2 separate regions of the Homo sapiens genome follow, and region 2 is linked to region 1. The links come from fine-mapping of genetic effects on gene expression. A gene starts in region 1. The other region holds a variant in brackets. All regions are shown on one strand. Distances are between the middles of the regions. Region 1 holds the start of FLRT2 (fibronectin leucine rich transmembrane protein 2). Region 2 overlaps FLRT2 (fibronectin leucine rich transmembrane protein 2).

What was found. PIP is the estimated chance that this variant, and not a neighbour inherited with it, causes the effect. A credible set is the group of variants that fine-mapping cannot tell apart.
Region 2: its variant is the best candidate, but not a certain one, in a credible set for the expression of FLRT2 in spinal cord (GTEx, PIP 0.79).

What each region holds. Positions count from the first base shown.
Region 1 is chr14:85,528,028-85,532,290 of GRCh38, forward strand. It overlaps FLRT2 (fibronectin leucine rich transmembrane protein 2), which reads left to right and starts at 2,117. Exons shown (of 2, transcript NM_013231.6): 1 at 2,117-2,507. FLRT2-AS1 (FLRT2 antisense RNA 1) reads right to left here and starts at 3,632. Exons shown (of 2, transcript NR_184170.1): 1 at 590-3,632.
Region 2 is chr14:85,586,460-85,590,722 of GRCh38, forward strand. All of the region lies in intron 1 of FLRT2 (fibronectin leucine rich transmembrane protein 2), which reads left to right. Among named protein-coding and RNA genes, the nearest start is that of FLRT2-AS1, 57 kb to the left of the region's middle. The variant T/C (reference allele first, on the strand shown) is at 1,841.

The sequences.
Region 1 (4,263 bases):
TTTTGAAGCTTGCAGATTTGCTTTTTGTTTTTCTTTCACCCACTTCTCTTATGGATCAGTGAGTTTCCTAATAAAAATAAAGTAACCTAATTGTTATAGTTTTCTAAGTCTGCAAAATTATTGCTCTTTGGAGTCCCTGAGCCACATTTCCTATTCGTTTGCTTCCTCTGGCCCCATCATCACACATTTCTAAAGCTGACTCATAGGTCATGTGCATAAGAAATTTGTTACAACGATTCTGCTTGTACTTTGGCGTGATATTTTTTCTTACTTAATTTTCCTTGTCGTGATTACAATAGATGCAACCAATAGCTTTTAATAGGTGGCACATACTCATAACATGGTTTGCTCATGGTTTAGAAACACCAATAATTTAAAGTATGAATTCTGTAAATCTGCAACCACCCCCTCCCCCATTTTCAATCTCATTCATTTTCTAGCAGCATAAATCAGAAAGCAAAACCTTTGTTGCTTTAAAGATCCTGCTTTGCCTTTTTAAAATGTGTTCTTAAAGATGAAATAATTATGCTGCTTTCCTGGATCAAGATTTCAAAGGAAGAACCTCCTGCGGATACTTATGTACACTTACATACGAAAATGGATGTTTAAATGCAGGTAGATGAGTATTTGTCCTAAAATGTGATCTTCCTTGTTGATGCTGGAGCTTGAGGAGCTATCCCTATGCTCTGCTGCCACCTTGGAAACTCAGAAGGATTTACAACGGAGTTCTGCACAGGGGAAGCTGGAAGCAGCATTCCCACAGCCTCTTCTGGGGCTGGCAAGGCTCAGAGAGGCATTTGAAATGGCTATTATTGACACCCATAGACTTGGGTATGTTTCAGAGAGAAACTATAACATCTATCTCATGGGAAAACACACTTTCTCTGTTTTTAAATAACTCCGTTTCAGCAAGATCCATGTGTGTAGCCTCTGAATACTCTATAAAGGCTCCGTATTTCTTTCTTTCTTTCCTTAGTCCGGAATGGAGACAGAAGAAAGATTCGGTTGAAGATGTCCCTGTGTGGATCTCAGTTTGCGCTCTGAGCGACGTCCTGGCTCATTTGGGTGTGACGGTGAGAGCAGAGGCGCTCTGCTGACAGTTTTTTCTTGTCTAAGCTTCCATTCCGCATCCACAATATGACTCGCCTTCCACTCCAGTTAACTTCTTGGAAGTCCAGAGCACTTAGTCAAAGCTGTTTACAAAATGCAAAGCATCTGGGCGGCCAAGGCAGAGGCTCCTGTGTTCTCTATGTAACCGCCTCCAAAAAAGCTGGGAAATTTCGCGGATCAAAATGTAGGCGCTTAAAGCTGACCCTCTGCTGTCAATGTTGGGACTTAGATACATTTTTTGCATCGTCATTCTTGTGTGTGTTTCCCGTTTATTCCATTCTAAGGCTCAGGCTCGCGCTGTTTCTCTCGCGCGCGCTGTCCCCTCTCTCCATTTCCCATTCACACATCAAACTCCGTCCTCCGCACCCCTATCTTCCCGTGTCTTCTTAGTTATGTGAATGTGTGTCATTAGGCTTACTCGGACACTGGATGGGTGAGTGGGAGGCAGCTTTTCTTGCGGTTTCATTTACACTTGGCATGGGTGGGTGGGTGCCCTCCACAATTCGTCTCGCACACGGAACACAGTTAAAATCTGTAGCTAGAACGAGTGAAAAGTTCCGAATCTTTAAAGCGCAGCTAGGACAGGAAATAATACAGGGTTGGGGGATGTGGACGGGGGCGGAGAGCAGAGAAGTAAAGGAATAAAACCAACTTCGCTGGCAACTTCAATAAATCCGGTAACTGGAGGCAAAAAATAGACTCCGAGGGCTGGGTCTGGTCCGGATGAAACGCTAGGGCTCCTTCCCTTCCTTGAATCTTGGGCGCTGGAAGCCAGCCACGGGCGTCTTGCCACGCGAGTGCCCCTAGACAGCAACACACCCACTGGAAACGCACGTGAACAAAGCTCTCGCCCCCGGGAGCCGCTGCCTGCGGTTTCCTAGTCGATCCCAGCTTCTCTAGGGAGTGTCAGGCGCACACAGGGTTAAGTTAGTTCCCTCCCTGGTAGGAGGGAGAGGAGGAGGAGGGGAAAAGCAGCATACTGTCTCAGGCTGGGTACCTTGTAGTTAGTTGTACGTTCGAAACCTGTCGCCGTCACTTGCGCGTTTGGCATTATCCATTGTCACCGCGGAGGAACGAGCGCTCGAGATATCATCAGTGCCCGCAAATCTCCGCGCCAAGGCGCTGAGCTACTCCTTTCCGAGGTGCGCCTCTGGTCCTCCGTCCCTGGTGCCCAGCAGCGGCGAGGCGGCATCTCCGCTCCCGCCGCCGTGTCCACCGAGCCCTGGGATCAGGGTGGCAGTTCTCAACGATGGGCAGGAGGGACCTCGGCGGCGACCCCTAAAACAATACCATGCCCCGGGATCCCCGCTGCTGCCGCGCCAGCGTCTTCCCTTTCCACCTCCCTGACCCTGTCGGATTCGGATGAGCCCATTGCAAGGAGAAGACGCAGCCGTCAGGTAAAAGGGGCTGCGTTGCCAGGTGAAGTTTCCAGTAACCGGCCGAGCTGCTGCTACGCTGGCACCACGCTGTCTCTTCGGGGGATTTTTTTTTTTTGAAAGAGCTGGGGGTGGTCATCTTAAGTGGGGTGCTCTAGGCTTTGTCTTTCACCTGGAGAGAAAATAGGCAGCTTAGCTCTCTCTCGACTTTGGGGACATCTGTCTGCTGGTCGAATCCACCTCCTCTACGGAGCATCATGACTGAGTTCTGGGTCAAAACGCAAATTTTCTTGCCTGGTAGATGCATCGATGCTAAATTGGGGTTCTCAGTGCCCCTAACCTTGTCAGAGTTCAGTCTCCTACTTCCCTAGATTGAATCTCTTAACTTTCACCAGTAACAACCCTCTCCCCTCCACAAGCTGTTGTTAATGTCACCAGCGTTATTATCAGGCTGTTGTATCTAAAGACACCAACCTACTACCTGCCCGTAATCTGGGATCTATTAGCAGTTAAACAGATGCGGTGGATACTAATTCCTTTTCCTTCCAGTTGGTGGGGGCGGGTGGGGCTTTTTCCAAAACCAAGTCCCTTCCAGCCCTGCTTGTCCTCTTCGGGCTGGCGGGCACTGAGCTGGGGCCATCACGCCTTTCTAGAGCGCCTGCGGAGGTGGCGAAGGCTTGGAGAGCATACGAGGCGGAATCCGGATCGAGTGAGTTCCTTGAGCCGCTTGCGTGGGACGCAGGGAGAGGGCGAATAACGCCCTCAGGCGCTGAATGCAGGGGCAAGGAGCCAGCGAGGGTGGCTGGAGCAGGCCTTGCCAGCTGTTACCAAGTCTCTCCACAGGCTTGGGGGCTTGGGGCCTCCTGGAAAGATCCCTCCGCCGCGCTGACCAGTACGGGGCTCGCTCCCGCACTTTGAAGGCTGCCGCGGTCTTTCGTCATTTATAATCAAGCCCAAGATCAAGGTTGCAAGCTGAGGTCGGGGTACTGACAACGGGAATGAAGCCATAGGGGAAGAGGATAACTGGGACGGGCTGGACCCATACTTGATACCCGGGAAACTCCTAGAGCGTGTGGTGCTCCTGCCAGCGGCAGTTACTGGTGGAGCTGAGGCCACCGCTACTGTCGTCGTTGGCGCTTTGCTTCTGGAACCTCCCAGCAAGATGGCACTCACTGTCTGTTCCCTTCCGATTAGCACCCCCAGCCGCGCTCCCTCCTCCCCGGGATACGTATTAGTCACATACTGTGGGGAGAAGATGGGCTATGTAAATGTAAGTCAACGCGCTTTCCCAGCCACCTTTGCATAATGCAACAGGAACAGCGACCCGCGCGCACGAACCGGGTAGTGTGCGCGTGTGTGTGCTCGCGTGTGTGAGCGCGTGTGCCAGCGTGCGTCTCCGCGCGGGCGTGCGTCTGGGTGGATCCTTGCGTGGCTTGGGAGGCAAATCGGGCGTTTCTCCAAGTCGTCTTAACATGATTTAGGCTCTCAAATACGTGAAAGCGGTAGACACAACAGGGATGCGAAGGAAATAAAAAACAATTGGGGAAGTGGTGCCAAGTCACTCAGGCTTTGAACTGAGGACGAGTAGTGCGGTCGCGCCTGGGGCGCGTCCGGAAATCATCCTCAGCCTGTGGCGGCCACTGCCCCACTTAAACTCTTCTGCGGGGAGAGTTGAGCGGATCCCTGGGGGGTTGGTCCTGGGCTAGTTTTAAACTCTCCGGTTGCATCTCGCGTGGCCCCACCGACGGCGCGTCTCGGCGTAGCTCTTGGCGCGGGC
Region 2 (4,263 bases), 58 kb after region 1:
GTGCCTATAGTTGAGAGTACTGTATTAAACACTTAATTTGTTAAGATGGTAGACAGCATATTAAATGTTCTTACTATAATAAAATGAACACTTAAAAAAAGAATACTTACAATTGATGCTTTATAATCGTGATAAAACTCACTCATATTTATGTGCCAATTCTTACACAGTTTAGGAATTGAAAATACGGTATTTTGATATATATAGGTAAATATATGAAGTAAATATATATGTACACACACACACACACACACATATCTCAAAGTAAAAAGGAAAAAATAAAAAAGGTCTTTGTTTAGGTTTCTGTTTTAGCAACTGAAATTTTAACGCCATTCAGGCAAATTCTCATGGGCATGGTAGATATAGAATCAGTTTAGTCGTGATCCTGTCATTTGTACAGTGGGGTCATGCTATTTCTCAAAGTCAGAAGAAAGAAGTTCACATACAAAAGGTTGACGTGGAAAGATAAGCTGGTTTTCATTGAGCTTAGGTGGAGCTGGTTTTCCTTTATAGACCAGTATATATTCTCCTGCTTGGCCATAGGGAAATTACATGCTATTTTATACACAATTATATATTACTTTCTACAACCAGTATCTAACTTGATATTTAGCCCTTGGCTCTATCTAAGACAAAGGTATTGCAATTGCCCATTTTACCATCAAACGAGGAAGCTTTGTTGTACTTCGCTTTCAAAATGATCCTTGAAAACCTACACACATACACACACCAGCACTTACATTCTTTTAGTATTTCAGGAAGTGGGCATGAGTAGGTTTGAGCCTTGAAACTGCTTTGTCATCCAGTTTGTAGCTGGCTAAGGAATGGAAAAAAAAAAAAAAAAAAGAAGAAAGCAGAGCTCATCTTGATCATTGTAATTGGCACTGACAGCAAACACCAGTGTGCCAATAGCGCCAAAGAATTCCTACGCAAAAGCTACTTCAGCTGTCCGAGATTTTCCTGATTTGTTTTGTTTGTGCATTTGATGTATAATCTTGTGGTTTGGCCCTCCTCACCACCTAAAACAGAAAAAGCATATTCAGTTCCTAGGTCATTTTAACTGGAACTTGATCTTCAAGTTCCAACTATGTCAACAAATTAAAGGACTTGACCATGAATTTTTTTTTTTTCTAAGTGAACACTTTGCCATTCCTCAAACCCTACCGCAGGTTCAGCAGACACATGTAAGCGGCCTCTTTAGATGTGGTCACCGTTGACAGCTCAAAAGAACAAAATCAAAACCCTGAAGACTTTACATAAAAACTCATCGTTGGAAGAAGAGCTCGTATTTCAAAGATGATATTAATATGAGAATATTTTTTAACATCCTCTTTTAGCATAAATTTCTCATGATTAAAATATTACCCACAATGCTGTATTGTCTAATCACCTGGTTAGTAAGATGTCTGGAACTGTGGCATGGTGAATGATGAGGAAATGTTCTGGGGGACTGCTTTTATTTCAGCTTCTTTTTTGTTTGTTTTTTTTTTGAGATGGAGTCTTGCTCTGTCTCCCAGGCTGGAGTGCAGTGGCGCAATCTCAGCTCACCGCAATCTCGGCCTCCCGGGTTCATGCCATTCTCCTGCCTCAGCCTCCCGAGTGATATTTCAGCTTCTTTCTTATTGATGATGATGATGGGATTAGACAAAAATATTGCAGAACGAAACAAGTGTCACTATTTGAGTCCCGAATCTTATTTTCTTCATACTATTATACACTTAAAATTAGTGCCTATTTTTGTCTCCTCTTATAGCTTCTTCTCCTCACATCTTGTTAAGTGAAAGACAGACGGGCCTTAATATTACTAAGAATAATAAAAATACTTCCAATTCAATAAACA[T/C]TTCAGTAACTGGATGAAGGTCTTTGCTTGAATTGTCTCTCGTGGTACCCTCATCTACCCTTCAAGGCAGGTATGCTGTGTTAATGATAGTATTACTCAAATAAGACTTGGCCTTCTAGAAATTAAATGACTTGATCCAGTTCCTATCACTAGCTCAGTTTTTTTTTTTTTTTAATTTTTACTTTTTTTGGGTACATAGTAGGTGTATATATTTATGAGGTACATAAGATGTTTTGATACAGGCATGCAATGTGAAATAACCACATCATGAGAATGGGGTATCCATCCTCTTAAGGATTTATCTTTTGTGTTACAAACAACCCAGTTATACTCTTTGAGTTACTTTAAAATGTACGGTTAAGTTATTATTCATCATAGTCACCCCGTTGTGCTGTCAAATAGGTCTTATTTGTTCCTTTTATTTTTTTTCTACCCATTAACGATACTTACTTTTCCCCCACCCCAGCCCCTCAGTACCCTTCCAGCCTCTGGTAACCATCTTTCTATTCTATATGTCTATGAATTCAATTGTTTTGATTTTTAGATTTCACAAACAAATGAGAACATGTGATGTTTGTCTTTCTGTGCCTGCTTTATTTCACTTAACATAGTGATCTCCAGTTCCATTCATGTTGGATGGGTGATAGGATCTCATTCTTTTTTGTGGCTGAATAGTGCTCCATTTTCTTTATTCATTCATCTGTTGATGGACACTTAGGTTCTTTCCAAATCTTGGCTATTGTGAACAGTGCTGCAACAAACATGGGGATGCAGATATCTCTTTGATATACAGATGGCCAACATTTTCTTTCTTTGGGGTATATATCCAGTAATGCAATTGCTGGATTATATGGTAGCTTAATTTTTAGTATTTTGAGGAGCCTCCAAACTGTTCTCCACAGTGGTTATGCTAACCTGCATTCCCACCAGCAGGGTACAAAAGTTCCCTTTTCTCTGCATACTTGCCAGCATTTTTTATTGCCTCTCTTCTGCATATAAGGTATTTTTACTGGGGTGTGATGATATCTCAATGTAGTTTTAATTTGCATTTCTCTATTGGTCAGTGGTGTTGAGCACCTTTTCATATGCCTGATTGCCATTTGTGTTTCTTCTTTTGAGAAATGTCTGTCCAAATCTTTTGCCCGTGTTTTGATTGGATTATTAGCTTTTTTCCTATAGTCGTTTGATCTCTTTATATCTTCTTGTTATTAAGCCCTGGTCAAATAGATAGTTTGTAAATATTTTCTCCCATTCTGTGGGTATGTCTCTTCACCTTGTGGATTGTTTCCTTTGCTGTGCAGAAGCTTTTTAACTTGTGATCCCATTTGTCCATTTTTGCTTTGGCTGCCTGTGCTTGTGGGGTATTGATCAAGAAATTTTTGCCCATACCAATGTCCTGGAGATTTTCCCCTAGGTTTTCTTATGGTAGTTTAATTCTTTGAGGTCTTAGATTTAAGTCTTTGATAGATTTTGATTTGATTTTTGTATATGGCAAGGGATACAGGTCTATTTTCACTCTTCTGCCTATGGATATCAAGTTTTCCTGGTACCATTTATTGAAGAGACTGTCTTTTCCCCAGCATATGTTCTTGGCACTTTTGTCAAAAGTGGATGCGCTGTAGGTGAGTGGATTCTCTATTCTGTTCCATTGGTCTCTGTGTCAGTTTTTATGCCAGTACCACGCTGTTTTGGTTACTATAGCTCTGTAGTATAATTTGAGGGTAATGTGATTCCTCCAGTTTTGTTGTTTTTGCTCAGATTTTTTTTTTTTTTTAAACATAACATTATAGACCTTTTGAGCTCTTTGTTGTAGGATGCTGAGCTGTGCATCATATGGGATTTTGCAGCATTCATGGTCTCTCCCCACCAAATGTCAGTAGCATCCCCAGTCAAGACTATCAAAAATGTCTCCAACGTTGCCAAATTTCCTTGGGGTGGGGGCAGTGAGGCAAAACTGCCCCCTTTAGAATGACTTTGCTAGCCGTGTGACAGAGCCTGGGAATGCCCTAGACGAATTTCCTTCCTCTTAACCCATGTGCTGTACAATACCTGTCTTCTTGTCCCTTCTGTTTTTTCATCTGAGCATAAGAGTTTAGAACTTGAAAAGCAAATCACTAATGTCTGCTTTTTCATCTCAATGATAGGTGAAGTGCATTGATGAATACTTCCTTTTCTCTTTGTGGGTATAGTAAATTAAATCTTGTATAGAGATCCATGTATTGTGAAGGCAGTAGTATTTGCACAGTATCATGCATATGGAGAAGGGATAGAGTAAGGATATTTATTTTATTTTATTTTTATTTTTATTTCATTTTTTTGAGACAGAGTCTCGCTCTTTCGCCCAGGCTGGAGTGCAGTGGTGCGGTCTCGGCTCACTGCAACCTCTGCCTCCCCGGTTCAAGCAATTCTCTGTCTCAGCCTCC